Regions from separate parts of the Homo sapiens genome. Here all the other regions are linked to region 1. Evidence: fine-mapped expression QTL. A gene starts in region 1. Each other region holds a variant in brackets. All regions are shown on one strand. Distances are from middle to middle.

Evidence for each region. PIP is the estimated chance that this variant, and not a neighbour inherited with it, causes the effect.
Region 2: its variant is the best candidate, but not a certain one, in a credible set for the expression of PTPN12 in T cells (TOPMed, PIP 0.76).
Region 3: its variant is the best candidate, but not a certain one, in a credible set for the expression of PTPN12 in caudate (GTEx, PIP 0.67).
Region 4: its variant is the best candidate, but not a certain one, in a credible set for the expression of PTPN12 in monocytes (TOPMed, PIP 0.54).
Region 5: its variant is the best candidate, but not a certain one, in a credible set for the expression of PTPN12 in whole blood (TOPMed, PIP 0.58).
Region 6: its variant is the best candidate, but not a certain one, in a credible set for the expression of PTPN12 in whole blood (TOPMed, PIP 0.58).
Region 7: its variant is the best candidate, but not a certain one, in a credible set for the expression of PTPN12 in whole blood (TOPMed, PIP 0.69).

The regions. Positions count from the first base shown.
Region 1 is chr7:77,535,217-77,539,482 of GRCh38, reverse strand. PTPN12 (protein tyrosine phosphatase non-receptor type 12) reads right to left here and starts at 2,188. Exons shown (of 18, transcript NM_002835.4): 1 at 1,838-2,188. The coding sequence starts at 1,936. LOC124901681 (a long non-coding RNA gene) reads left to right here and starts at 2,534. Exons shown (of 3, transcript XR_007060395.1): 1 at 2,534-3,112; 2 at 3,202-4,266. RefSeq lists silencers at 1,649-1,698, 1,839-2,048, 2,299-2,598 and enhancers at 2,669-2,888, 3,059-3,108.
Region 2 is chr7:77,506,707-77,510,972 of GRCh38, reverse strand. No RefSeq gene overlaps it. Among named protein-coding and RNA genes, the nearest start is that of PTPN12, 28 kb to the left of the region's middle. RefSeq lists an enhancer at 1,312-2,287. The variant A/G (reference allele first, on the strand shown) is at 2,416.
Region 3 is chr7:77,480,739-77,485,004 of GRCh38, reverse strand. No RefSeq gene overlaps it. Among named protein-coding and RNA genes, the nearest start is that of PTPN12, 54 kb to the left of the region's middle. The variant G/A (reference allele first, on the strand shown) is at 1,955.
Region 4 is chr7:77,668,820-77,673,085 of GRCh38, reverse strand. The region is part of intron 1 of APTR (Alu-mediated CDKN1A/p21 transcriptional regulator); the gene reads left to right. Among named protein-coding and RNA genes, the nearest start is that of APTR, 25 kb to the left of the region's middle. The variant C/T (reference allele first, on the strand shown) is at 1,915.
Region 5 is chr7:77,608,344-77,612,609 of GRCh38, reverse strand. PTPN12 (protein tyrosine phosphatase non-receptor type 12) reads right to left here. Exons shown (of 18, transcript NM_002835.4): 10 at 1,768-1,845; 11 at 1,564-1,662. Among named protein-coding and RNA genes, the nearest start is that of PTPN12, 73 kb to the right of the region's middle. The variant G/A (reference allele first, on the strand shown) is at 2,461.
Region 6 is chr7:77,459,526-77,463,791 of GRCh38, reverse strand. It overlaps the pseudogene GCNT1P5. Among named protein-coding and RNA genes, the nearest start is that of GSAP, 45 kb to the right of the region's middle. The variant C/T (reference allele first, on the strand shown) is at 2,026.
Region 7 is chr7:77,494,789-77,499,054 of GRCh38, reverse strand. No RefSeq gene overlaps it. Among named protein-coding and RNA genes, the nearest start is that of PTPN12, 40 kb to the left of the region's middle. The variant G/A (reference allele first, on the strand shown) is at 1,730.

The DNA of each region.
Region 1 (4,266 bases):
CCAAGACAATAAAAACTCTCAATAGTAAAAAGGGAAAATGCCGTTTTCCTTAACCCTTTCAGATCAAAAAGTAATTTTTCAAAAATACATAGGCTAAATATCAAGAGCAAATGTTTAAATATAAGCAATATTTTTATTTTTAATAAGGAATAAGTTAGATTATTTAACTTATATTTTCAATCTTCAAAAGATACTGAGAAAACTTTACTTCCGTCCTCTATTATTGGTCTGGGGAGGCGGGAATCACAAAGCTCAACGATGCTAGTATAATACTGTGTATGGTCAAGGGCCTATTTTATAAGCTGTTAAAAATTTAACGCTAAAGCTTTACTAGACCAGTCTCTTTAAAACGTGAAAAAGTATTCACTACTAAGTCATATCACCTCCACCATAAAAACTACTGTACTTTTTAAACAAAAAATAAAAACTAGCCAATGTTTGCTGCCCATTCATTTTACAGGCATTAACTGTGTATCCTTCTCATAATCAGATTTCAGAATTAAGTGATTATTCTTCGAGGTGTACCTTACCCAAGATAAAAATTTTCCCCAGCTTATTTCCCATTCCCAACCCCCGCCAAGACTAAGGAGCAACCACTTCCCAAAGTCCCACTTCCTTTTTCATTCCCCAGACCTACAGGGTTTCCAACGCCCCAGTCTTGCGCAATATCCGTAGGAGCAGCAGCCGCAACCACCGCCTCCTAAGCCGGGAAACAACCCTAGAGGGAACATTGTCCAGCAGAAAAATAAAAAGGGCGGGGGTTGGGGGGGTGGGTAACGTAGGAAGTCGACTTCTGGTCTCACGCCTTCGGATCTGACCCCCTCACAGTGTGCTAAAGCAATAGTGTATCTAGAGCAATTTCATGAACAAGACTTTTAACCTTCACCTCCTCTCAAGACTGCCTGCACAAGCAGAGGGCGGAAAGTAGGGGGTGGCGGAGGCGGGGGGGCGCTGGGAAGGTTATCTCCCAGTTCAGGGCTTCGGCCCGTAGCGTCGCCTCCGCCCCACCAGGACTATTGTTCCCAAGTTCCCCACCCCCACCCCGGATAGGAAGTGATAGTCACATCCCCTCCGCCTTCGGCAATATCCCCTGGGGAGTCCGAAGTCGGCTGGCTTCCTTCAGGATAATTCCCCCACCCACACTTATCCCCTGAACCTATAGTCACACGGACCCCAAGACCACCTCAAACCTGGGCCTCAGGAGAGGAGAAGCGGGACGCGGGTAAATGGAAATTAGGTAAACCCATGAGATTCCTTATGGGCAATCCTTTCCCAAGCGTTGGAGATCATGACTGCGACCCCAGAAACGGCCTAAGTCCTACCCTGCCCGCTTTGAGACCAGCTAGAGCAAAGGGATCCCAGGAGTTAGTGCCAACCTCAATACCCCCGTTCCTCTGTCAGCCACGATCTGCACTCCTCCCGGTCACAGCCAGATACCTTGCCTCGACCCTCCTGGGAGGAGCGAACTGCGCGGGGAGGTGTGGAAACGCGAGCCCCCCCCCCCGGCCTGCACCTCACTTGCCTACGGCTCCCGGCCCGGTAAACAATAGGTGGTCGCGAGCCACGGTGCAGGCTGCGGGCTCGGCCGCGCGGCCGCTCCCTTCGCGTCCCGGGAACCCGCGCGGGGGTCGCGAACATGGGAGAAGAAAGGAGGCCACGGGGGGAGGCGCTCTCGCCTCCCGCTGGCCTCCGAGACCACCCGGCTCACCCGGCTGGTGCGCGCCCCCTCCGCCCCTCTCCTCACAGAGGTACACAAAGCACTGGCGGCCCGGCCGGGAGAGGCGGCGATGGGCTCCGGCGCCGGCAAGAAAACGCGACAGCGAGGGGAGAGACTCACCATGAAGTCCCGGGCGAAGTTGTCCTCCCCATTGTGGTCAGGACTCTTCATGGCCTGGACCCTCTGGATGAATTTCCTCAGGATCTCCACTTGCTCCATCCTCCCGCGTCCCCCCGGCTGCGGTCGCTGGCCCCCCCGCCGCCCGCCCGCCCGGCACAGAGCCCGCTCCGTCTTCCCCAGCTCGTTCCCCCAGCACGTCCCTCCCTCCCGACCCCGCCAAGCCCCGCGGCTCCCTCCTCCTCCCCACCGCCCTAGGCGGCGGCTGCGGCGGCACCGGCTGGGCTCCCGACACCACAACTTCCAGGAGCAGCCGCCGCTCTCCCACAGTACCAGGCGAGCCGCTGCGCTAGCGCCAACCCCAACCCCCAGCTTGCTCCATCCTCCTTCCCCGCCCTCCTCCTCCGTCGGAGACGCCGCCGCCGCCGCCGCCGCCGCCGCCGCCTCAGGAACACAGCTAGCTCTCCGCTCGCCCTGCCCCCCCTTCCCGGTTCCTCCTCCCCCCCACCCCCCGCCAGCAGCCGCAGCCGCAGCCGCAGCCGCCTCTCCCCACGGGCGCGTCCCCGCCGCCACCCAGATGCGCGGCCTCGCGCTGCGGCTCCGCCCCAAGCGCTGCGCCCGCAGATGCATCCCCGCCCGCCTCCCGGCCACGCCCCCAAGCCCGCCCCGCCGGCCCCAGCCCCGCTTGGAGTGGCTGGAAGGCACTTCAGCGGGCGGCCTGGAGACCTGACTCCATTTCCGGGGCGTGGCCCCGCCCGGGGTGCTCAGAGGTCGGAGTATCGCTGGGAGGAGAGTTGGTTCATTTGGAGGAGGGAATGCGACTCTGAGCGGGCCAAGCCCTAGTGGGTCAGAGTAGGATTCTGATGGAATTTGCGGTCTCACCGCCTACTAGGGAGGAAAAGCAGTTTTCAGGAGTCCCGCACCGCCGCCAGCCGTGGGCTGGGACTACAAGTCACGGTCTGTGGAGTCCAGGAGTGGGGGCGGGCGGGAGGCAGGCTGGGAGCTGTAGTAGTGTCACCGCCACGTTCGCAGCAGGTAGATGCTCATCTTGCTAACGGATTGGTGAGAGTGGACAGCAATTAGGCTTTGGCACCTTGGAGCGTGGCTCCAGCTAAGGGAAGCGAAACGCTTCCTGGGTGAGAGGACTTTTATTCTTTGCTCATCCTCTTAAACCTGGCGAGTGAGCGCCTGAGGTTCGGAGTGCCTTCTTCACAGACGACGCGAATGTGGGGTCTTCGTGTTTGCCGAACTGAAGGGAATTTGCCTTCCTGCCTTTAGGTTCGCAGCAGTTCATAACTGAATAAGAGACTTTCCTCCATAGAATGGACTTTATAAATCTATTAATTTTTTTTTTTTTTTTTTTTTAGAGCTAAGGTCTTGCTCTATCTCCCATGCCAAAGTGCAGTGCTATGATCACGGCTCGCTGCAGCCTTGAACTCCTGGGCTCAAGGCATCCTCCTGCCTCACTACGTCACCAAGCCCAGCTAATACATTTTAAAAATTTATTATTTATTTATTTATTTATTTTTGGTAGAGAAGGGGGTCTCACCAGGTTGCCCAGGCTGATCTCGAATTCCTGTGCACTAGGGATCCTCAGCTTCCGAAAGTGTTGGGATTTTAGGCGTGAGCCACCGCGCCTAGCCTATAAATCTTTATTCATCTTTGTAAACTTCTATCAGAGAATATATTCTGGTCTAACTCATCATTTTACAAATAAAGCGACTTCCTGACATCCCCCAGCGTATTCTTAGCAGAGCCGTAACTAGAAGTTATTTTACTTTCACAACAGTGGCCTCTCACAATGTGACAGAACTGAAGGATTTGATCCATGAACTGACTTTCGTCATTTATACCCACAAACCTTTTTTTACAGAGCAGATTGGTCAGCGAATTTGGTTATAATAGGAAATATCAGTGGTAGAATACTTTCTCAGATGAAAGTTAGGAGCACTATGGAATTTAGTGAAAAACTCATTGAAGAAAATAGGTGTAGGCCGGGCGCGGTGGCTCACGCCTGTAATCCCAGCACTTTGGGAGGCCGAGATGGGAGGATCACCTGAACCCGGGAGGCGGAGGTTGCAGTGAGCTGTGATCACACCATTGCACCCCAACCTGGGCGACGGGAGTGAGGCCCTGTCTCAAAAAAAAAAAAAAGAAAAGAAAATAGGTGTAACAGGATATAGTTTATTTACTTCTTCAAAAAAAGGAAAATATTTCTGTTAAAATAATCCAACTAATACATCCACTCCAGAAATATGCACTTCAGACCAGGTGCAGTGGCTCACACCTGTAATCCTAGCACTTCGGGAGGCCGAGTTGGGTGGATCACTTGAGGTCAGGAGTTCGAGACCAACCTGGCCGATATGGTGAAACCCTGTCTCTGCTAAAAATACAAAGCCGGGTGTGGTGGTGCACGCCTGTAGTCCCAGGTA
Region 2 (4,266 bases), 29 kb after region 1:
TAGGAAATGTGTCTTTATGGTAGAATAATTTATATTCCTTTGGATATATACCCAATAATGAGATTACTGGGTTGAATGGTAGTTCTGTTTTAAGTTCTTTGAGAAATCTCCAAACTAATTTCCATAGTGGCAGAACTAATTTACATTTCCACCAGCAGTGTATAAGCATTCTCTTTTCTTAACAACTTCACCAACATGTTATTTTTTCACTTTTTAAAAATAGCCATTTTGACTGGTGCGAGATGGTATCTCACCCTGGTTTTGATTTTGATTTGCATTTCTCTATTAACTGGTGATACTGAGTGTTTTTCATATGCTTGTTGGCCACATGTGTATATTCTTTTGAGAAGTCTCTGTTCATGTCCTTTGACCATTTTTTTTTTTAATTTATTTTTTTATTGATAATTCTTGGGTGTTTCTCACAGAGGGGGATTTGGCAGGGTCATGGGACAGTAGTGGAGGGAAGGTCAGCAGATAAACAAGTGAACAAAGGTCTCTGGTTTTCCTAGGCAGAGGACCCTGCGGCCTTCCGCAGTGTTTGTGTCCCTGATTACTTGAGATCAGGGATTGGTGATGACTCTTAACGAGCATGCTGCCTTCAAGCATCTGTTTAACAAAGCACATCTTGCACCGCCCTTAATCCATTTAACCCTGAGTGGACACAGCACATGTTTCAGAGAGCACAGGGTTGGGGGTAAGGTCACAGATCAACAGGATCCCAAGGCAGAAGAATTTTTCTTAGTGCAGAACAAAATGAAAAGTCTCCCATGTCTACTTCTTTCTACACAGACACGGCAACCATCCGATTTCTCAATCTTTTCCCCACCTTTCCCGCCTTTCTATTCCACAAAGCCGCCATTGTCATCCTGGCCCGTTCTCAATGAGCTGTTGGGCACACCTCCCAGACGGGGTGGTGGCCGGGCAGAGGGGCTCCTCACTTCCCAGTAGGGGCGGCCGGGCAGAGGCGCCCCTCGCCTCCCGGACGGGGCGGCCGGCCGGGCAGAGGGCTGACCCCCCCACCTCCCTCCCGGACGGGGCGGCTGGCCGGGCAGAGGGGCTCCTCACTTCCCAGTAGGGGCGGCCGGGCAGAGGCGCCCCTCACCTCCCAGACGGGGCGGCTGGCTGGGCGGAGGGCTGACCCCCCCACCTCCCTCCCGGACAGGGCGGCTGGCCGGGGGGGGGGCTGACCCCCCCACCTCCCTCCCAGACGGGGCGGCTGGCCGGGCAGAGGGGCTCCTCACTTCCCAGTAGGGGCGGCCGGGCAGAGGCGCCCCTCACCTCCCAGACGGGGCGGCTGGCCAGGCGGAGGGCTGACCCCCCCACCTCCCTCCCAGACGGGGCGGCTGGCCAGGCGGGGGGCTGACCCCCCCACCTCCCTCCCGGACGGGGCGGCTGGCCGGGTGGGGGGGCTGACCCCCCATCTCCCTCCTGGACGGGGTGGCTGGCCGGGCTGAGGGGCTCCTCACTTCCCAGTAGGGGTGGGCGGGCAGAGGCGCCCCTCACCTCCCGGACGGGGCGGCTGGCCGGGCAGGGGGCTGACCCCCCCACCTCCCTCCCGGACGGCACGGCTGGCCAGGCGGGGGGCTGACCCCCCCACCTCCCTCCCGGATGGCACGGCTGGCCGGGCGGGGGCTGACCCCCCACCTCCCTCCCGGATGGGGCAGCTGGCCGGGCGGGGGGCTGACCCCCCCCACCTCCCTCCCGGACAGGGTGGCTGCCGGGCGGAGAGGCTCCTCACCTCCCAGACGGGGCGGCTGCCGGGCAGAGGGGCTCCTCACTTTTCAGACGGGGTGGTTGCCAGGCAGAGGGTCTCCTCACTTCTCAGACGGGGCGGCCGGGCAGAGACGCTCCTCACCTCCCAGACGGGGTCTCGGCCGGGCAGAGGCGCTCCTCACATCCCAGATGGGGCGGCGGGGCAGAGGCGCTCCCCACATCTCAGACGATGGGCGGCCGGGCAGAGACGCTCCTCACTTCCTAGATGTGATGGCGGCTGGGAAGAGGCGCTCCTCACTTCCTAGATGGGATGGCGGCCGGGCGGAGACGCTCCTCACTTTCCAGACTGGGCAGCCAGGCAGAGGGGCTCCTCACATCCCAGACGATGGGCGGCCAGGCAGAGACACTCCTCACTTCCCAGACGGGGTGGCGGCCGGGCAGAGGCTGCAATCTCGGCACTCTGGGAGGCCAAGGCAGGCGGCTGGGAGGTGTAGGTTGTAGTGAGCCGAGACCACGCCACTGCACTCCAGCCTGGGCACCATTGAGCACTGAGTGAACGAGACTCCCTCTGCAATCCCGGCACCTCGGGAGGCCAAGGCGGGCGGATCACTCGCGGTTAGGGGCTGGAGACCGGCCCGGCCAACACAGCGAAACCCCGTCTCCACCAAAACCAGTCAGGCGTGGCGGCGCGTGCCTGCAATC[A/G]CAGGCACTCGGCAGGATCTTCTATCTGTCCAAACTGGGACCGAGTCCTCGGCCTCGGAGGCTCCACGCTCCCTCTCTCACAGCCCGCACCTCGGCGGTCTCTCGGAGGAGGGAGGAACCCGAGGTACCTGGTAGTCGTAGCTGAGGAACTTACAGGCTTGTTGACCATCTCACCATGGAAACTCGACCATTTTTTAATGGGGTTGTTTTTTTGTTTTGTTTTTGTTTTTGTTTTGAGACGGAGTCTCACTCTGTCGCCCAGGCTGGAGTGCAGTGGCGTGATCTCAGCTCATTGCAAGCTCCGCCTCCCAGGCTCACGCCATTCTCCTGCCTCAGCCTCCTGAGTAGCTGGGACTACAGGTGCCCGCCACCACGCCTGGCTAATTTTTTGTATTTTTAGTAGAGACGGGGTTTCACCAATGTTAGCCAGGATGGTCTTGATCTCCTGACCTCGTGATCCGCCTGCCTCAGCCTCCCAAAGTGCTGGGATTACAGGCGTGAGCCACTGTGCCTGGCCAGGGTTGATATTTTGTTTTTTTGTTTGAGATGGAGTCTTGCTCTTGTCACCCAGGCTGGAGTGCAGTGGTGTGATCTCTGCTCACTGCAACCTCTGCCTCCTGGGTTCAAGTGATTCTCCTGCCTCAGCCTCACGAGTAGCTGGGATTACAGGCACCTGCCACCATGCCTGGCTGAGTTTTCGATCTTTTGTAGAGACGGGGTTTCACCATGTTGGCCAGGCTAGTCTCAAACTTCTGACCTTAGGTAATTCGCCCATCTTGGCCTTTTCATTCTGTTTTGTAGAATGGAGCCTAACCCCGCCCCCCCCCCCAAATAAAAATAAAACAAATTTTCAATTACAATGAGCAATGCACAAAGATATTGAGGTACATAAGGAAGTCTGGCCCTGTAAGCAAGATTCAAAGGAAACAGCAGATATTAGAAACAGATCCACAGACTATAAAACAACTATGTATGTCTGTAATTAAAAAAATAAAAAGACAACTTGAAAATATCTTCAGGTAACAGAAAACTATCAAGGGATATAGCATATTGAAAACAGACATTTTGACCAAATTGAGTAAATTTAACTAGTTTGTTTTTTCTCATGTTTAAACTTATTAATTAAATTAATTATTTTAGTCTTTCTAGTGTCATGTTTTAAAACCTAAATCAATGTACTATGGCCAAAAGTGTTAATCTCAACAGCCGTGGAGAATATAAGTGTCATTACTGTTATTATCATCATATATTAGAAAAGTCACAGTATCTCAGCAAATAGTCATCATCAAGTCATAGTATTTTACTTACAATGATACAGATTCATGATGTCCTTCCATTTGTACAAAGGTAATTAGTTCTGACTCTTAAGTCATTTATCTGACAATCTGTCCAGCTTAAAGATATGAAACCAACCTTAAACCCACTGAAAAAAGAACTTACCACTAGATTCCTGTATCAGTCAGGAATAGCTTCAGCTGTGAGTAAAAAAAAAAAAAAAAAAAAAAACAAAAAACAATGGCTTAGTCTAGAGCTGAGGTGGCCTGGTACTCTTGTAGCTTCCATTCCCAAGGTCACCTCTTGTTTCAGCTGGGCTACTCCAGCCATCACAACCATATTCCAGTCTGTCTGAAGGAAGAAAAGAATAATCGGGGGCAAAGGACCCATCAGCTCTCTTATAAAGACGGTTTCCATGAACTGCCATACTTTGCTTACCTATAAGAAAGAGAAAAGCATGGCCAGGTACAGTGGCTCACCATGCTTATCCCAGCACTTTGGGAAGCCAAGGTGACTGGATCACTTGAACCCAGAAGTTCAAGGCCAGCCTGGGTAACATAGTGAAACCTTGTCTCT
Region 3 (4,266 bases), 54 kb after region 1:
GCAATGTTAGCTCAACATATGCAAATCAATAAATGTGATTCACCACATAAACAGAATTGAAAACAAAAACCGTATAATCATCTCATTAGACTTGGAAAAAGCTTTTGATAAAATCTAACATCGTTTCATGATTAAAAAACCCTCAACAGGCTAGAGGCATCAAAGGAACATACATTAAAGTAATGAGCCATCTCTGAGAAACCCACAGCCAACGTCATGCTAAACAGGCAAAAACTGGAAGCATTCCCCTTGAGAACAAGACAAGGATACCCACTCTCACCGAGAATCCCCACTCTCACCACTCCTATTCAACATAGTACTGGAAATACTAGCCAGAGCAGTCAGGCAAAAGAAAGAAAGAAAGACATTCAGATAGGAAAAGAAAAAGTCAAACTATCTCTCTTTGCAGACGATATGATTCTATACCTAGAAAACTCTAAAGACTCTGCTAAAAGACTCCTGGAACTGGAAAATGGCTTTAGTAAAGTTTCAGGATACAAGATTAAATGTACAAAAATCAGTAGCATTTCTACACAACAATTATGTTAAAAATTAGAGCCAACTCAAGAATACAATCCCATTTACAATATCCACAAAAGAATAAAATACCTGGGAATACGACCAAGGAGATGAAAGATCTCTACAAGGAGAACTACAGAACACTTTTGTAAGAAATCACAGGGCCAGGAGCGATGGCTCACGCCTGTAATCCCAGCACTTTGGGAGGCCAAGGCGGGTGGATCAGCTGAGGTCAGGAGTTTGAAACCATCCTGGCCAACACAGTGAAACCCCGTCTCTACTAAAAAAAATACAAAAAATTAGCCAGACGTGGTGGCATGCGCCTGTAGTCCGAGCTACTCGGGAGGCTGAGGTAGGAGAATAGCTTGAACCGCGGAAGTGGAGGTTGCAGTGAGCCAAGATTGCGCCACTACATCCAGCCTGGGCGACAGAGTGACACTCAGTCAAAAAGAAAAAAAAGGTTGGGTGCAGTGGCTCACGCCTGTAATCCCAGCACTTTGGGAGGCTGAGATGGGTGGATCAAGAGGTCAGGAGATTGAGACCATCCTGGCTAACACGGTGAAACCCCGTCTCTACTAAAAATTAAAAAAAAAATTAGCCGGGCGTGGTGGCGGGCGCCTGTAGTCCCAGCTACTCGGGAGGCTGAGGCAGGAGAATGGCGTGAAACCGGGAGGCGGAGCTTGCCGTGAGCCGAGATCGCGCCACTGCGCTAACAGACTGGGCGACAGAGCGAGACTCCGTCTCAAAAAAAAAAAAAAAAGTAATAATAAAGTGTTTAGCAGATTATATTCATGAAGCCAATAATGTCTATTATTACTATTAGATACTATAGTCCAAATTATCTTTGATTCTATAAATATTTGCATAGCTTCATCTGAAAAGCTTTCTGTTTTATCACAGTTCATGCTAACAGTTCTGAAATGCAGAGTAGAGCAGAAACTCAGTTTTTAAAATTTGTTCTTATAGGTCTGATTATATGTCCTTTGAAGATTTTGGTTGCTTTTCCCGGAATCTCCAATTAATCTGTACCGTATCTACAAGCATTTATTTTTCTTATATTTCTGTAAAATGTGTACATTTTTAAATGTGAAAAGTCAAAGCAGAAACATTGCTATAACTAAGCCCTAACCAATACTGAGAACCAACGAAGGATAACCTCATAATTGGTAAATTTTATATTATTTCTACGTAACACTATTAGACTCATTTTAAAATGTGCTACTTTCCTGACTCTTTTCTTTTTCTTTTTTTCTTTTTTTTTTTTTTTTTTTTTGAGATGGAGTTTCACTGTCTCCCAGGCTGGAGTGCAGTGGCATGATCTCGGCTCACTCTGAGATTCTGGTTCCAGCGGTTCTCCTGCCTCAGCCTCCCGAGTAGCTGGGACTACGGACGCGAGCCACCACGCCCAGCTAATTTTTGTATTTTTAGTAGAGAA[G/A]GGGTTTCACTGGCAGGGCATGGTGGCTCACGCCTGTAATTCCGGCACTTTGGGAGGCCAAGGCAGGCAGATCACCTGAGGTCAGGAGTTCGAGACTAGCCTGGCCAACATGGTGAAACCCCGTCTTTACTAAAAATACAAAAAAAAAAAAAAATCAGCTGGGCGTGGTGGTGGGTGCCTGTAATCCCAGCTACTTGGGAGGCATAGGCAGGAGAATCGCTTGAACTCAGGAGGCAGAAGTTGCAGTAAGCTGAGACCACGCCATTGCATTCCAGCCTGGGCGACAAGAATGAAACTCTGTCTCAAAAAAATAAAAAAATTAGCTGGGTGTGATGGCACCTGCATGTAGTTCCAGCTACTTGGGAGGCTGAGGTGGAAGGATTGCTGGAGCCTGGGAGGTTGAGGTTGCAGTGAGCTGTGATCATGCCACTGCACTCCAGCCTGTGCAACAGAGCAAGAGACCCTGTCTCAAAAAGACAAAAAAGGATAAAAGGAGGTCTTGAATGTTTCACTTTTACCCTCTTTATTAGGAATGTGAAATTTTTTACATGTAATAATTAAAATATGCTATTCTTTCAAACAACATACAAATGGTACTGTTACTTGTTGCATCATTTCTATGTTTTCAACTTTGTGTGCATGCATTCATTTTAAGTTATGATTTTGGATTCTGTTTTTATTTTTAAAAAACCAATAAATTTTCTTTATGAAACTATCAAAAAGCAAGTGCTAATTTATTTAATATATTGTCCAGTTGAGAAATGGTCACAGGATCCAAGAGGCCATGTGTCATGAAATCAGATAAATCATTCCTATGTTGTGGAGGCTGAACTGCTTTTGTAAGTACCTGGGAGGTCTGGCCGGATTTCCGGGTTGAATTATAACAATCTTTTATGTCATGGGATGCCTTGCCCAGGTTGTGCAATGTAACCATGAGAACCAAGCAAACCTGTTGCTCAACTAATTCAATTCTGTTTCTTCTATATCCAAATCAGGTTATTTCCATACAAACACGGTTTAATAGAATATTTACCACCTGACAAGGATTGTAAAAATTTCTGTGGACTTAGTGATAAAAAAAAAAAAAAAAAACCTAGATTGAAAATATGTTGTGAACCAGCTAGGGCTCAGAGGACTTTATGGTCTTGATAAAATTCAGGTTCAGCCAGGAACAGGTGACATCAGATGCAACTGTTCTTTACATGTGGCTCTCTCTATCTCCTTTCTACCCACCTGGGCTACCCACAAACTTCTTCCTCATCCTAAGACTATGCTGCAGGTGTGGTAGGTGCGGCACATACCACTGATACAATGCCGGAAGAGACACTTTTACTTCCTATTAAGGCCAAAGGCCAGGTTGGTCATTTGATTAGGAGTGAATGGGGTTGTTCTTGATCTAGGGCAGAAGGTGGGAGTGAAAGAGGAGTATATGAATGGTCCTGACAAGACAGCATATTAAATGTTATTTTGAACTCTATCAAATTTCTATAGTTTTAACACAATGACTGATAGTCATCTATTTCCTCTGAAGTAGATGATTTATTTATTTATTTTTTTGAGTTAGAGTTTTGCTCTTTGTTGCCCAGGCTGGAGTGCAGTGGTGCAATCTCGGCTCACTGCAACCTCCGCCTCTGCGGTTCAAGAGATTCTCCTGTCTCAGCCTCCCAAGCAGCTGGGATTACAGATGCCCGCTACCATGCTTGGCTACTTTCTGTATTTTTAGTAGAGACGGGGTTTCACCATGTTGACCAGGCTGGTCTTGAACTCCTGACCTCAGGTGATCCACCCGCCTCAGCCTCCCAAAGCGCTGGGATTACAGGCGTGAGCCACCACGCTCGGCCAGATGATTTATTTTTATGCTTTGTGTTCTGCCTTCTAAATCTATTTTGAGAAAAATGTAAATCAACTAAGTTTGAACTCAATTTCAATTTGTACTTAATTCAATAACTTTCCTTTTTTTTTTTTTTTTTTTGAGATGGAGTTTTGCTTTTGTCACCCAGGCTGGAGTGCAATGGCATGATCTTGGCTCACTACAACCTGCAACTCCCGGGTTCAAGCGATTCTCCTGTCTCAGCCTCCCAAGTAGTTGGGATTACAGGTGCCCACCACCATGCCTGGCTAATTTTTGTGTTTTTAGTAGAGACGGGGTTAAGCTATGTTGTCGAGCCTGGTCTCAAACTCCTGACCTCGTGATCCGCCTGCCTCGGCTTCCCAAAGTGCTGGGATTACAGGTGTGAGCCATCGCGCCTGGCCTTAATTCACTAACTTTTCAAACATTAATCCCTTAAAGAAAAATAGAATAAGTCTAATCT
Region 4 (4,266 bases), 130 kb before region 1:
TTCCACGTCGGCCTCCCAAAGTGCTGGGATTGTAGGTGTGAGCCACCACACCTGGCCTGTTTGTTTTTTTAATCCCATGATTTACCTTTCTGTTTCCCCTATACCTGAGACTTGGTAACCATCTCTTCACATACTTACAGTTAATTGTTCACCATTCATCACACCTGGATGTCCTGCATTTGACTGAACATGCCCAGTTCTTTTCACAATTTCTCATAGGTCTAATTTCACAAACCTTTCATCAGTTGCTGTTCTCTGAACAGTCTCCAAGTTTTTTCTCTTTATATAGTATGACATGTAAAATTAAATATAGTTTGTTCCAACTGAAGCCTGCCCAGTGCCAAATAAAGCAAAAATAATTGCTTCCCTCCTTTTTCATGCATATGCCTTAATACAATTCTATGAAGTATTTGTCTCTTATTTCAATTCATCCAACTTAACACCAACCATAATTGTTGGCTCTCCCTTGGCTGTTTCATCTACAGCTGTCTTTGCCAGTATTTCCGCATGTTTGCTGCAATTCAGTAGCATATTAAAAGTTACATGTTAAATTTCTAAGAGGAATTCTTTCACACATTTTTTATTTAAAAATTGCCCCATGAACAATGTGGATGTAGTGTTTGGGGCCTCAAGAACTAAGGCTTGAACAATTCCAAGTACTTTGGTGGTGGGAACTGGAAAGACAGATTTAGATGGAGAGGTACCAGAAGAGATTGCTGAAAACCGGAGAAAGATGGCTGCCTTTGGTTTTCTCTTTGTTTTTGTTTTTTGAGACAGAGTTTCGCTCTTGTGGCCCAGGCTAGAGTGCAGTGGTGCGATCTCGGCTCACTGCAACTTCCACCTCCTGGGTTCAAGCGATTCTCCTGCCTCAGCCTCCAGAGTATCTGGGACTACCGGCGCGTGCCACCATGCACAGCTAACTATGTATTTTTAGTAGAGACAGGGTTTCACCATGTTGGCCAGGCTGGGAGATCAAACTCCCGACCTCAGGTGATCCACCTGCCTCAGTCTCCCAGAGTGGTGGGATTACAGGTGTGAGCCACGGCGCCGGGCCAACTGCCTTTGTTTTCTGCTATCACAGTTCTTTGGTTGTAAGCAAGGGAAACCAATTTCAGCTAATGTAAGCAAAGGGGAATTTGTCAGAACTATATCAGAGGATTTTCAGCTGGCTGGAGAATCATGCTTAGAAACTGGCAAACACCAACAATGCTCCCAAAAGCAGCTATCTCAGGCATAGTTTATAGAAGAAGAGAGCTGGGTGTGGTGGTTCACAACTACAACTCAGTGCTTTGGGAGGCTGGAGGTGGGAGGATTGCTTGAGGCCAAGGGTTCAACATCATCCTGGGCAACATAGTGAAACCCTGTCTCTACAAAAAATAAGTTTAAAAAATAAGGCAGGTATAGTGGCACACTCCTCAGGAGACAGAGAGGAGGATTGCTTGAGCCCAGGAGTTCAAGGCTGCAGTGAGTTATGATTGCACCACTGCATTCCAGCCTGGGCATCAGTGTGAGACCATGTCTCTTTAAAAAAAAAAAAAAAAAAAAAAGCATTAGTGTCCATCTTTGGGGCCTCTTCCTTGGTTCTTCCCCAGTTCCAAATTCTAAACAAACCTGGACACTGGATGTGAGGCACTGTGGGGGATTCTAAGAGTAAAAATACACAACCAGTGCCCTTCGGGATGTTACAATCTAGGAAGGAGAGAAAGATACACAAATAGTGAAATATAAACCCAAGTGTTAAATATGCTCTAAGAAAAGTAAAATGTGGCCAGGCACACAGGCTCACACCTGTAATCCCAGCACCTTGGGAGACTGAAGCGGGAGGATCACTTGAGCCTAGGAGTTTGAGACCAGCCTGGAAAACATGGTGAGACCCCGTCTCTAGTAAAAAAAAAAAAAAAAAAAATTAATTAA[C/T]TTAAAAAAAAAATAAAGTAAGCCCGGCTTGGTGGCATGAACCTGTAGTCCCAACTACTTGGGAGGCTGAGGCGGGAGAATTGCTTGAACCCGGAAGGCGGAAGTTGCAGTGAGCCGCTGGAGGTTGCAGTGAGCCAAGATCGTGCCACTGCACTCCAACCTGGTGACAGAACAAGACTCCGTCTCAAAAAAAAAAAAAAAAAAAAAAAGTAAAATGTGCTAAAAGCCAAGTTCCCAATTGTCTCCTGGTTACGGAGAAATAGATGTTCCCAATAACTCTCACGGTAACTATGGTTGGCATAAGGTGCATTTAGACTAGCTTTAACAATTATTTTCTCATTGAACTTCTTCACTCAGATACTGCAGTATTTCCAGACAGGTAAGTACCCTAACCTATGTAAAAGTCCCCTTAGCGCTTGTTTTACCTTCACCCTAGGAAATCTCACATTCAGAGGATACCTCATCAACATCATCTGCTCAGATGTCCTCTTGCTCAGCACTTGCAACATTAGTGAAATAACACATTGGTATGTCACTTTTTTGTTTCTTTTTTTTTTTTTTTTTTTTTTTTGAGACGGGGTTTCGCTCTTGTTGCCCAGGCTGTAGGGCAATGGTGCAATCTCACTGCAACCTCTGCCTCCTGGGTTCAAGCAGCCTCCCAGGTAGCTGGGATTACAGGCGTGTGCCACCATGCCCAGCTAATTTTGTATTTCTTTACTAGAGATGGGGTTTCACCATGTTGGTCAGGCTGGTCTTGAACTCCTGACCTCAAGTGATCCACCTGCCTTGGCCTCCCAAAGTGCCAGAATTACAGGCATCAGCCACTGTGGCTGGCACCCCACCTCCCATTTTATTTTTTCTTTAGCAGAGACGAGGTCTTGCTATGTTGCTCAGGCTGGTCTTAAACTCCTGAGTTCTCCCACCTCAGCCTCCAAAAGTGCTGGGATTACAGGCGTCAGCTACCATGCCTATCCACATTTTGTTTTTTTGTTTTGGTTTGGTTTGGGTATGTCACTTTTTGATATTAGGTGATCCAAAATAATTTATCTTGGTATGCAAGATGTTCAAGGAACAAACATCTACAATAAGGTACCAAAGTTTTGAATTATTTATCTGTGTATATGTATGTATACCCACACAGACCATTATGAGGCATTTTAGAAATCACTTTCTCACATGCATTCCAATATAATTTCCTGAGAGAGAAAGGAGTTCCATGCAGGGAGTTATACATAAACCACAGCCTACTTTTATGGCCATTTTGAATTACTTTTGTATTTCAAATTCACTTTTTAAAACTTCACCCATGGGGCGGGAGGATTGCTTGAGCCCAGGAGTTCGGGACAGCAGTGAGGTATGATCATGCCACTGCACTCCAGCATGGGCAACAAAGCAAGACCCCCATCTCTAAAAAAATCAATAAATAAAGGAAACTTCACCCATACCCACAGAAGAGAAAATTGTGAATGAGTGCATCAACATCTACAGTACACAAAAACAGTAGTCTCTGAACATTGTTAGTAGGGTCCTAACAGTTATGATAGCCAAGTGAAAACTCTCAAAGGAAAGTGAAAATATTCCTTATATCAATAACATGGAGGGAATCTACCAATTTTATGTTTTTAACAATAAATTTTATGCCTTTTCAAATAATGTGTACTTGTTTTATTGGTGTTGTGAGTAAAGGCTGGGGGAGAAATCATGATATTTAAAAATTAGATATGCTACATTTTGGCAATTCTTACATAACTGATTTCACTATTGTTGAATTCTTAACATTAAGTGAACATCTTTTGTTTTTCTTTTTGTTTTTTGTTTTGTTTGACAGGGTCTCACTCTGTCATCCTGGTTGAAGTGCATTGGTGCGAACACAGCTCACTGCAGCCACAGCTTTCTGGGCTCAAGTGATCCTCCCCCCCAACTTCAGCTTCCCAAGTAGCTGGGACTGCAGGTGTACGCCTGCCCAGCTAATTTTTTATGTTTTATAGAGGCAGTGTCTCGCTTGTTGCCTAGGCGGATCTTGAACTCCTGGGCTTAAGTGATCCTCCCACCTTAGCCTCTCATAGAGTTGGGATTATAGGTGTGAGCCACTGGACCCAAGGCTTTTCTTTTTTTGAAACAGTCTCACTCTGTTGCCCAGGCTGGAGTGCAGTGGCATTATCAGAGCTCACTGCAGCCAAGACTTCCCAGGTTCAAGCATCCTCCCGCCTGAGCCTCCCTAGTAGCTGGAACTACAAGCACTTACCATTACACCAGAATAATTTTTTTAATTTTTAATTTTTGTAGAGATGGGGTCTCACTATGTTGCCCAGGGTAGTCTCGAACTCATGGGCTCAAGTGATCCCCCTGCCT
Region 5 (4,266 bases), 73 kb before region 1:
AAAATTAGCCAGGTGTGGTGGCACATGCTTGTGATCCCAGCTACTAGGGAGGCTGAGGCAGGAGAATCGCTTGAACCTGGGAGGCGGAGGTTACGGTGAGCCAAGATTGCACCATTGCACTCCAGCCTGGGCAACAATAGTGAAACTCCATTTCAAAAAACAAAATAAAACAAAACAAAAACACATTTGATTCTACATTATAAAATATTTGGCTAGATTCAGAGCATGTCATAATAGGATTTAATTAAGCTAAAGGCATTGTAGGAGGATTTCCTTGCACAATAATTCCTATGTTAATAAAGGAATAAGAACGATGTCACATAAAACTTAAAAACGTGAAATTGTCACTTGGCTAATAAAAGAAATGCATATTTCCTAAAACTCATGGACCGATATTAGATTATCCTAACAAACTGAGATCAGCATTTGGTAATAAATCTGTCATTTGGAAAACCAAGAAAATTCAAACAAATATTCTGGGAACTGACAAAACCATTTAAAGGGAGAAAAGGAAAATGAAGGTTATAAATTTTGCAACTTATTTTCTCATACTTGGTTTAACAATGTAATAGTTATCATAGACTCAATGACAAAGATGTAAACAAATTCTACAAAAAAAAAAAAAAAATCTCAGCACCTTCAGGGACAAGGTGGTTATATATAGAATTGAAGCAAGACAATTGGTTAGAAAACAAAGGCAGAAATGAGAATACTAAGAGAATACAGTGTTTTTGTCAGGTCTAGAAGTTGAATATCCAGTAAGATGTTACAAGGCTAAAATAACACTGAATTATAACACAACAAAAGGGAGTTAACTGTGGCTCTTTAATTCTGCTTAACTGAAAAGCATATACACAAGGCCAGGAGTGTTGGCTCATGCCTGTAATCCCAGCACATTGCACACTGGGAGGCCAAGGCGGGCAGACCACCTGAGGTCAGGAGTTCGAGACCAGCCTGGTCAACATGGCGAAACTCCGTCTCTACTAAAAATACAAAAACTAGCTGGGCACAGTGGCGTGCGCCTGTAATCCCAGCTACTCAGGAGGCTGAGGCAGGAAAATCACTTGAACTTGGGAGGTAGAGGTTGCAGTGAGCTGAGACTGTGCCATTGCACTCCAGCCTGGGCAACAAGAGTGAAACTCTGTCTCAAAAAAAAGAAAAGAAAAGAAAAGCATATACACAAATAACTAAAACACTTTATACAAAATGAAATTCAAGTAGAATCAATGCAGAATTACTTGGGTGGGGGTGGAAGGGAAGAGTAAAGAGAACAATGCAATTATTTTTTAAAAAAGTAAAACATTAACGAATTATATGATTTTTGACATGAGATCTTTCCTAACTTTATTTCATTTAGAACATAATTTACCTTATATCGGAGTCATTAAATAGCCATCATAATACAGATACGAATAAGAAGGAAATGAGTTTAAGTAAAAATGTTAAGTGTCCTGGATATTCTTCTCATGTTAGACAAAACACAAGACAACAAAAAAAAGGCTAAATATTACATCTTAACAAAGAGTAAAAGTTTCCTAAAATTAATAGACCAAGAACACCTACCACTCCATCAGCAATTTTCTGAGCTCCATGAATTTCATATAGTTGTAGCTGTTTTTCAAACAGTTGGGCAATAGCTCTATGAACAAGTTCATATTGCTCCTATGAAGGAGAAAAATGATTAAAAAACAAAATGAAAACAACATTTTAAAAAAGAAGAAAGCATTTATAAAATAGCAGTTTATAAAGGGAAACAAACAACTATACCTTTGTTTGTACTGCAGAATGCCTTTGTGTTCTCATTTCTTGTATTAAATTAAATACATTAAATTCCTCTGGTATTTTCTAAAACAGAAAATTTAATACATCAACTTTGTGTATCTATTCAGAAAATAGTAAAATCTTCTTCAGCTTTTCACATAAAACTTAAATACCTGCTGGTTTACTGCAAACATTTATTGAACACCACTTAATGCATCTCAGACACTGTGCTTGGCACTGTGGAAACAAAACTGTTCTTGACCCTCAGCATTCAAGATGGGGAGACAGTTATGTCCAGCCAAAGTATGACTGCAGTATACAGGGAATAAAGAGGCTATGGCTAACTGTTGAGTGTGTGCAGCTACAACATAGTTGGATATCAAAAGAAGGTTATCCCATAAAAAGTGAAGGAAATATACATAAGCACAGCAGATTCAATGTATAATCTATGTGGGGAATTGAGAAGTTTGATGTAAACAAAGCCTAAGACTAAAAGAAGGAGAAGGTACTCAAAGGAGGAGAGAAGATAAGGATATTTAGGATCAGACTGTGAACATAATAAAGAGACTGAATTTATTCTATTGGCCAGTATCTCCTGGATTGGCTATATAAGGACCAGCTAAAAGACCTAGGTAAAAATATAGATCCTTTGGCTCCAAGTTGGGGAACTAATTATGAAACGACCTAGACAATTCTTTT[G/A]TGTATATGGAATTGCGACTACTGCAATAGGCAATGTTGACATGAGAAGATCTGATATTCACACAATTTTTGTATCAAGGAAGAGGACAGTCTGAAAGAGTGAGAAACTGGCGGAGGTTTACAGAAGCAGAAATATCATAACTGTTATCAACAAGAATATTTTGGAGTGATTAAGATGGAAGGGTTAAAAATGATTTCCAGGTTTGCTGCTTGGAAGTCCTTATATACATCATAAGATTTTTGGGTTTTTTTTTTGTTGTTTTTTTTTTGAGACGGAGTCTCGCTCTGTCGCCCAGGCTGGAGTACGGTGGCGTGATATCCGCTCACTGCAAGCTCCGCCTCCCGGGTTCACGCCATTCTCCTGCCTCAGCCTCCGGAGTAGCTGGGACTACAGGCCCCCGCCACTACGCCTGGCGATTTTTTTTATATTTTTAGTAGAGACAGGGTTTCACCGTGTTAGCCAGGGTGGTCTCAATCTGCTGACCTCGTGATCCGCCCGCCTCGGCTTCCCGAAGTGCTGGGATTACAGGCGTGAGCCACCGCGCCCAGCCAAGATTTTTACATGAAGACTTAACAACTAGGCCGGGTGCAGTGGCTCATGTCTGTAATCCCAGCACTTTGAGAGGCCAAGGCAGGCGGATCACCTGAGGTCAGGAGTTTGAGACCAGCCCGAAACACGGTGAAACCCCATCTCTACTAAAAATACAAAAATTAGCCAGGCATGGTGCCGCGTGCATGTAATCCCAGCTACTCGGGAGACTAAGGCAGGAGAATCGCTTGAACCTGAGAGTCAGAGGTTGCAGTGAGCCGAGATTACACCACTGCCCTCCAGCCTAGGCAACAGAGTGAGACTCCATCTCAAAAAAAAAAAAAAAAGAGAGAGAGAGAACTATGTTCAAAATACACAACTTTTATTTTATTTTATTTTTTGAGACGGAGTCTTGCTCTGTCACCCAGTTTGCAGTGCAATGGCACAATCTCGGCTCACTGCAACCTCTGCCTTCCAGGTTCAAGCAATTCTCCTGCCTCAGCCTGACAAGTAACTGGGATTACAGGCGCCGGCCACCACGCCTGGCTAATTTTTGTATTTTTAGTAGAAATGGGGTTTCACCATGTTGGCCAGGTTGGTCTCAAACTCCTGACCTCAGGTGATCCGCCCACCTCAGCCTTCAAAAGTGCTGGAATTATGGCATAAGCCATGGCACCTATCCAAAATACACAACTTTTAAAATGACCAAATGTTTGTTTTGTTTGCTAGCATTCATTTATGTGTCCCTTCTCATTCCAATTTTAATCTTTGACTTTTATGTTAAAATGTGATCGAATTCCAGTTAAATTTTGTTCACTTAAGCATTTTCATTTGAGAATTAGATGATTATAGTTTTTGAGGAAAAAAATATTTAACCCCAGAGGGCTTTTTAAGGAACTGTTTAACATGTAAATATTTCCTTGCAACAATAAAAAATGGAGAGATGGCAGGGAAAAAAGAGAAATAAGGGGAAGAAGGAAGAAAAAGAAAAAATAAACATTTTATTAATTCTACTCTGTACAAGACAAAGATGAACAATTCATGGAAACTATAAAGCTATGAAGGATTAAAGGCGCCTCTCTAGAAATGAACACATTATGGAACCAGCAAAAGAATCAAATGTATACATAATGAAGAGACTTGTTTTTCAAATCTATAATGAAGGCTGTATCTTATTTATCTCTGTATCATCCACAGTATCAAACACTATTTCTTGGAAAAAGCAGTAGTAGGAACAACAATCACAACAGCAACAGTAATCAACACTAACAATAAAC
Region 6 (4,266 bases), 76 kb after region 1:
ACTGCCCCTCTTTCTTGGACTGACTTTCCTCACTTCATGTGGGAAACTCTTATTCATCCTTTACTCAGCGACCATCTCCTTTCTTGATTTGTACCCACTCCTCCGGTTTGGTGTTAGCCCATTATGCCTGTTGCGTATTCTGATGCATACACCATTGCATACTTCGTCTTACTCTAAATCTTAACTTCTTCACTGCTCTGTAATGCAATTGTCTGTCTTTCTCTAGACTGAGACCTTCTAGAGGAAAGATCTGCGTCTTCTTTATCTTTTTCCCTCAGCACTTATTATAATGCCTGGCACGCAGTAGGCATTCTGTAAATGTATGCTAAAATAATCAATGCATAAATAGTCCAGAAAAGTTCAACATGGACTAACTTTAAAATGAGATTAATTATGACAATTGTTAGTTCAAATTTTTTTAATTAAAAAATTCTTTACTATTAAATCAAGCCAATTTAAGCTTTCTGGGATGATATACAGAGACACACTACACAGCACAATGGTATAGCAGAAAAGAAATTATTTACAAGGATTGTTTAGAGTAAAATCAAATCTCTATTTTAACAAATATATGAGATAAACTATATCTTTATGATTATTTTTTGCTGTAAATGTATTCATACCAGGACAATTGTCACATTTAAAATTCTCTAAATAATTTTGGCACAGGTGAAATCTTCTAACGTTGTTAAGTCCCTAAGCTCTTTTTCTTTCTTTTCTTTTTTTTTGGAGACAGAGTTTTTGCTCTTGTTGCCCAGGCTGGAGTGCAATGGTGCAATCCCGGCTCACCACAACCTCCACCTCCTGGGTTCAAGCGATTCTCCTGCCTCAGCCTCCTGAGTAGCTGGGATTACAGGCATGCGCCTCCACGCCCGGCTAATTTTGTATTTTTAGTTGAGACGGGGTTTCTCCATGTTGGTCAGGCTGGTCTTGAACTCCCAAACTCAGGTGATCTGCCCACCTCAGCCTCCCAAAGTGGTAGGATTACAGGCGTGAGCCACTGCACCTGGCGTTTTCTTTTCTTTTTTTAGACAGGGTCTCTGTCACCCAGGCTGGAGTGCCATGGCATGATTACTGCTCACTGGGGGCTCAACCTGCTGGTCTGAAGCAATCCTCCCATCTCAGCCTCCTGAGTAGCTGGGACTACAGGCACACATCACCATGACCAGTTAATTTTTTACAAATTTTTTTGTAGACACAGGGTTTCCCTGTGTTGCCCAGGCTGGCAACTAGAACTCCTGGGCTCAAGCAATCCTCCTGCCTGAGCCTTCCAAAGTTCTGGGATTACCAGGGTGAGACACTGCATCCAGCCCCTGAGCTCTTTCGACAGGCTGATTGTTTTGTGTCAGCCTCTTCTCCAGCCGCCTCAGCCCATTCTCTTCAGAATGACTTGCTACCGGCCCTGGCTTCACAGCTACTTTTATTATACTTCCCCCTCACTTTAACTCTAGATGAAAGTTTAATGCTCCAACCTTTCTAGCCAACTGTGCTCTGCAGAAACCAGGCAGCTTTTCTGACACAAAGACTTAGAGTCCTTGCTCCAAAGAGGGCCCTGTACAATTTTCCTGGTGCTTATTGACAAATAAGAGGAACCAGATAGTGTCAATTTTGCGCATTCTTCTTCTTATTACTAAAATTGCCTATAGTGGCCAGTGTTTTAAAGTCTCCAAAGTATGTCTCAGATGCTCATCTAAACACTGGATGGCAAAGAGGTCACCACCCGTGTCAGGCTTATTGGCAAACAAATGGTGCTTGCACAGTGTCCAGTTCAAGGTGCCAGCTCCGAAAAGGCACACTGAGCGCACATGGGCCCTACTGCAGGTGGGTAAAGAGTGCTTCAAAGTGCTGCCACCTGACAAACCTAGAAGCTGCATGCATGTCAGAAGAGTCATACTTACGGCTTAAGGAGAGTGAGCTGGGGACTTCGGGAATCCTTTGAACAGTGGCCTAGAGATACTTGCTGTATGTGTCTTGGGCCTACTCCATAAACTTTTAAATTTTTTTCATTCTCTAGCATATACCCCA[C/T]GTCCTCCCTACTGACCACAAAATAGGCACTGCCTGAAAAAAGAGATGTTTCGAGTGGAGGACACATTTTGACAGTCCCCATGTTTGTCAGCTTTCCACTAATAACTGCATGCCCTCTTTTCCACTTTTCTTCCTTATTGACTAGCATCGTCTCAGTTTCCAGGTTGTTTCCACCCATTAATGACTTGAGCTTCCTGAAAATTTCCAGGTTGGTTTGAATAGCAAAATCCATACCATAAAGATTCATCAAGTACCCTAGTCTGTACTCATTGTGTAGAGGTCCTTCATGCAGTTGAGGTCAGCCTGAACCACTCCACAGGAATGCAAAAACCACACCCTCAGCCCCTCAAGGCTTCTGTCAGGCAGAAGCAGCACAGTAGGGCACCTTCTTGCACCTCCAGGGCCAGACTTTCACTCCAGCACTTTCTCTCCATGCAGAGTAAAGCACGGGTACGGTAATGGGTGCCAGATGTCACCTGGAATCAGAACACTAAATGATCCAGACTTTCCTTAATTCTAAATGTGCTGTTCTTTATTTTAATATACCTTTGCACTTCTGATACATGCAAACTGACAACCTTCAAGGCCATGAAGGAGGAACATCTGTTGGTGCTTGAAGCCTAGAAGACTGCCCTTAACAACAACAACAGAAGTCCCTGATTGTTGTTTGAAATGCTGAGGAAGTTGCTGTGGAGGAGACTTTTTTTCTTTTTTCTTTCTTTTTTTTTTTTTTGAGACGAAGTCTCACTCTGTCGTCCAGGCTGGAGTGCAGCGGCGCGATCTTGGCTCACTGCAACCTCTGCCTCTCTGGTTCAAGCGCCACGCTTGGCTAATTTTTGTGTTTTTAGTAGAGACGGGGTTTCACTATGTTGACCATGCTGGTCTCGAACTTCTGACCTCAGGTGATCCACTTGCCTCAGCCTCCCCAAATGTTGGGATGACAGGTGTGAGCCACCGTGCTCGGCCAGGATAGATTTTATTTTCTAAGCTCCGGAGCTTTTGATATGCCTTTGGAGAAGTTCACACCAATTCCAAACAGGTTAAAAATGTTATACAAAGTTAGTGCATGTAATAAGTTCTAAATAAATTTGAATGTTATATAAGGTTCAATATATGTAATATTGTATTGAACAATACAATTAGAAGTAGATGATTTTTATTTATAGGAAATCATTTTACTGCATTGATTATTGTAGATTTATCTAGGAGAATGTTGGCAAAGGTCACATTAGTAACTGAAATCTAAAAGACTCCAAAGCCTAAATTAAGATAATGACTTACGTTTTCTTATTGCAACTTTTTGATCAAACCGGTTGCAATGCTTCTCTTCCTGTTCTTCCTGCCCTCTGGTGGAGGTGCTAACCATCAGGCCAGGAGATAAGCAAGAGCCATAAAAGAGAATAGTGAAAAAGATCAAGGTAAGCCTAAATGGCAAGCCACTCCTGAATAATTGAAGAGCCACTGTTTACCTAGAACAAACCTCTGTTCCTTGTTTTTTCCAACGTTAAATAGGGACAACAATATTTACCATAATTCCCAATATTTACTATTATTCCCAAGCTGGTACCTTTCCATAGGTACTGCTTTCTACCTTTGGTCTTGCAGACCTGGCTAATTCCCACACAAAGGAAACCATTCTCCTACTGTGGCCTCTTCTATGCCTGGAAAAGACTGCAGGTTGGTACAGTATAAAAAGCAGTGGACTCCATCGTGTTGGGTGTTTAGGTCGCCATTCCATCACTTGACTCTTCAGAGTCCTTTCGATCCTATTCCTTAGATCAACAATGTACTTTTATTTTGTGACAAATCCTTCCTAAGCTGGAACTTGGCATAGGAAGCTTTGTTTCATTGAAGGAGATAATGAATTTGAAAGAATACTACAATTTTATTGGGTTTGTATATGATTTAATGCATTAATGACATTTATTTTATTTATGTTGTTAATTGCTAAATAATAGCAATCTTAAATATTTCTGAAACGCCTTTTATCTTGATCCTGAAAGATAGTTGCTATAGCATTAAAATACACTTAGTTAAGAAAAAAAAAAAAAGCAGTGGACCAGGAAGTGAGGGTTCTGTTTCCAGCTCTGGCTCTTGCTAGTGGCTTGGATGCCCTTGGGTAAGTCTCTTAACCTCCCTGAGACTGGGTTTCTTCATCTGTAAGTTAAGAATTATGATATTAATGGGTCTATTGTGAGGTTCAAATGAAGTAATGGTAGTTAAAGTGCTTTGTAAACAATA
Region 7 (4,266 bases), 40 kb after region 1:
GTTTGCTAATATCCCTAAATATAGGCTGATGAAAACCACCAGAGTAAAACTGGTAAAAATAATACTGACACAAACGGCAGCAGCATGATGTGATCCTGGCATGCAGTTCTCTGCTGATCTGACTGACTAGGATATTTATAGGAATCACAAATGCAGATGACTACAGGGGCCAGGTAAGTAATTTAGTGAGTAAAGCCTGCTGCCTATGAGATGATGGTGTACATGTGCGTGTGTATGAGTGTGTGTATGCGGATTGTGACCACTGGAAAACCCCGGCCCTAACTAAATGGAGCAGCAGCCATGTTTTAGCTCCAGCAGTTGTTGCCGTGTGGGGATACCATTACAATGTTGCCAGATCTTCTATATCTGACACCTCAATTTTTCAGTGTTGGCTAAATTATTTTTAAATACTGTGTGGGTCAAACAAAATAATTCCAAGGGCTAAATTAATCCGTGTCTGTGACTGCTTATCTAAAGGAATGAATTGATATCATATCTTTCAGGTATTCCTCACCAGCATACTTTTCTCAGCACATGTATGTGTTTTAATGATTTTCTAAGTCAGGGGTATGATTGACTTTCTTTTGCAAGAATAGAGTTGCTTAAGTAACATGGGTTCCTGAATAGAAAGCCAAAAAGAAAATGAAGATAATTTATTTATTTATTTTTATTTTTATTTATTTATTTATTTTTTTGGAGACGGAGTCTCACTCTGTCGCCCAGGCTGGAGTGCAGTGGGGCGATCTCGGCTCACTGCAAGCTCCGCCTCCCGGGTTCACGCCATTCTCCTGCCTCTGCCTCCGGAGTAGCTGAGACTACAGGCGCCCGCCACCGCGCCCGGCTAATTTTTTGTATTTTTAGTAGAGACGGGGTTTCACCATGTTAGCTAGGATGGTCTCTGATCTTCTGTCTGACCTCGTGATCCGCCTGCCTCGGCCTCCCAAAGTGCTGGGATTACAGGCGTGAGCCACTGCGCCTGGCCCATTTATTTTCAATCACTTGATCATTCAATTTTTATGAAATGATTAAATGATCAGCAGAGTATTAATTTTAGAACTGGCCTTCTTTCATGGTGCTCTTGGAACTGGCCCAGAAGAGGCTTAGCTTATTTAAGAGAGGCCAAAAATGATCTGGTGTCAGCACTCAGAGGGCAATTTCTTCTCATTTTTGTTCTTGCATTTATACTTCCCACCACTCGTATTAATGCTTGATATTCTCTTATTCATATGTAGCCAGTTCAGAGTTCACAAATGATGTGATCAGAAGATTTGACTTCTAATTTTATTAGAACCAAGAGTATCATGGAAATGTCTACGTGTGAGTGCACAGGTGCTCTAGTTCTTACACAGTGGCTTCTGTACCTAAAGCCCTTCTGACGCATGCATGTCACTAAGGCTGAGTCGAGGAGAATGCTCCAATAAAGTGATCACTGGGGTGTTCTCAAGGACAACAAAAATTTACATAGCTCTTGGACAGACAAGGATCATATTTCAAGATGGCTTCAAATATTCAGTTAATCAAAATCAACCTCACAAGACTACATCCAGATAAAACCTTCAGAGACCACACCCAGAAATATTTCAGATTTATTTTTTTCTACTATAAATCCAGGGAAGAATTAAGATTTTTGAAAATTTTGGTGTAAAATAAAATGATTTATAGCAATAACTAAAGAAATAGAGTATTTGGAATACGTGGCATCCTGTTAACGGTGGGCATATTTCCATTC[G/A]GAGTTGTTTGACATGTTTGACGTTAACAACCATTATACTGCCACTACAGTATGGCAGTAGATTACTAAATAAACAGACATTCCCAGCATTTACCTCTTCTGTTAGAGTATTGTTTATCAAGAGTTTTCTTCAAATTTAAGCTTTAACATTATGTACCCAGACGTAATTTTAGCTTCTATTATAAGAATTGCTAAATTAAGAAAATTTTAATTTAGATTAAGTTTCACAATGTATAATTATTTATCTGTATTCATTCTGAAAAGATTTGAAGTAGTTTATAATAAAATATAGAGTCATTTTTTTTAAAAAAACACAAGAGAAAAAGAACAACATTCAGTTTAGGAATAAGGTGGTAGGACTGGAAGGTGTAGGGATAGTGAATTACTAACCTGAAAACTTAAGAGTGAATGGCTGTTAAAATTTAGCAGAAAACCTCGGGAGGCCGAGGTGGGCAGATCACCTGAGGTCAGGGGTTCGAGACCAGCCTGGCCAACGTGGCGAAACCCTGTCTCTACTAAAAATACAAAAATTAGCTGGGCATGGTGGTGGGTGCCTGTAATCCCAGCTACTTGGGAGGCTGAGGCAGGGAGAATTGCTTGAACCCGGGAGGCGGAGGTTGCAGTGAGCCGAGACCGTGCCATTGCACTCCAGCCTGGGTGACAGAGCAAGATTCCATCTCAAAAAAAAAAAAAAAGAAAGAAAGAAATATTGCCTAGCATTCAACTCTAACAAGAATTTACCACATAGATCTTGTTAAGGACGCTGAACAAACACAATTATCATCAAATTGCAATTTTATAAAAAATACCAAAGCATTCCTCATGTGGTCATTTCCACATAGGCTTTTGGCAAAAGTTTAAGAACATAATGTTAAATAGATTTCTATGAAAGCTGAAGAAATGCAGATTGACTTTGTCATTTTGGGGTAATGTGAACAGTAACAGACTTAGTAATTTCTGTCCCTCTTGGAGTATCCCATGTAGTAAACAAAATATATATATATATATATATATATATATAGAATACAACACATTTTTAAGACTCACAAACCTTCTGAGATCTCTTATTTTCATTTATTCAGGCAGTACTTACTGATGTTATGACATATATGCCTGTTCTGTACATGCCCTAGAATTTTCATGAACATATCTCATCTTTAGATGGTCCTTAAGTATTTATATATAACGTGCATATCCACCTGCCCTAAGGAAGGGTTATACTTACTATTAATTTACTCTCTGAGATGTATACACATTAAATTCTATATTCAACTAAAATTTTCATAAAATCTATAGATAATTTTTACCTACAGCGAGGTGAAGACATGCACTTTAAAAGTAAAAAGCTTCAACAAAACTACATGAGTCATGAATGCCACCACCATCCATCCAGTCATCCAATTCAGTCATGCCTAATTCTTCCATCTCCTTTAGACTTCCCTACTCCCAGCAAATCAGTGATTAGATTATCTTTCTTTTATTTCCTCGCTTCCTGTATCATTCAGGATCCAGAGAGTAGAATTATGAGGAGAGATACATACATACATAAATATAATATGTATTATATATATATATACACACATAAATATTCCCTCTCCCTTCCCATCTTCTATTCCTGTCCCCCCCACACTCCTCTCTCCCTCTTCTATTTATTAAGAAAGGGATTTATTAAAGGGATCTGACCTTCTGTAATTGTGGGAGCTGGTTGAACATTCTCTATAGGCTGTTTGCTGTCTTTGCCTCAGATGCTAAAGATTGAAGTCCACTGCCTGCTACCTCCACTGCCACTCCCAGCTCCAAATCATCACCACCTCTTGATCATACCATTTTTTGCTTGGTCTTCTTGTTCCTGTCTTTGCTTCAGTACTATCTATTCTCCACAGAGCATCCAGTGATCCTTTTATAAGTCAGATCACTTCATTTCTCTACTTGAACCCTCTAATGCTTCCTCTTTCACTCACATTGAAAATCAAAGTATGTTCATCTAAATGATCCAGGAGGCTCTACACAGTACTCTTAATCATTATGATAGGCTGCTGTATTAGTCTGTTTTCATGCTGCTGATAAAGACATACCCAAGACTGGGCAACTTACAAAATAAAGAGGTTTATTGGACTTACAGTTCCACATGGCTTTGGATGCCTCACAATCATGGCGGAAGGCAAGGAGGAGCAAGTCATATCTTATGTGGATGGTGGCAGGCAAAGAGAGAGCTTATGCAGTCAAACTCCCATTTTTAAAGCCGTTAGATCTCATGAGACTTATTTGCTATCACAAGAACAGCATGGGAAAGACTTGCCCCCATTGATTCAATTACCTCCCAAAAGGTTCCTCACACGACACATTGGAATTGTGGGAGTTGCAATTCAAGATGAGATTTGGGTGGGGACACATCATATCATTCTGCCCCTGGCCCCTCCGAAATCTCATGTCCTCACATTTCAAAACCAATCATGTCCTCCCAACAGTCCTCCAAAGTCTTAGCTCATTTCAGTATTACCTCAAAAGTCCACAGTCCAAAGTCTCATCTGAGACAA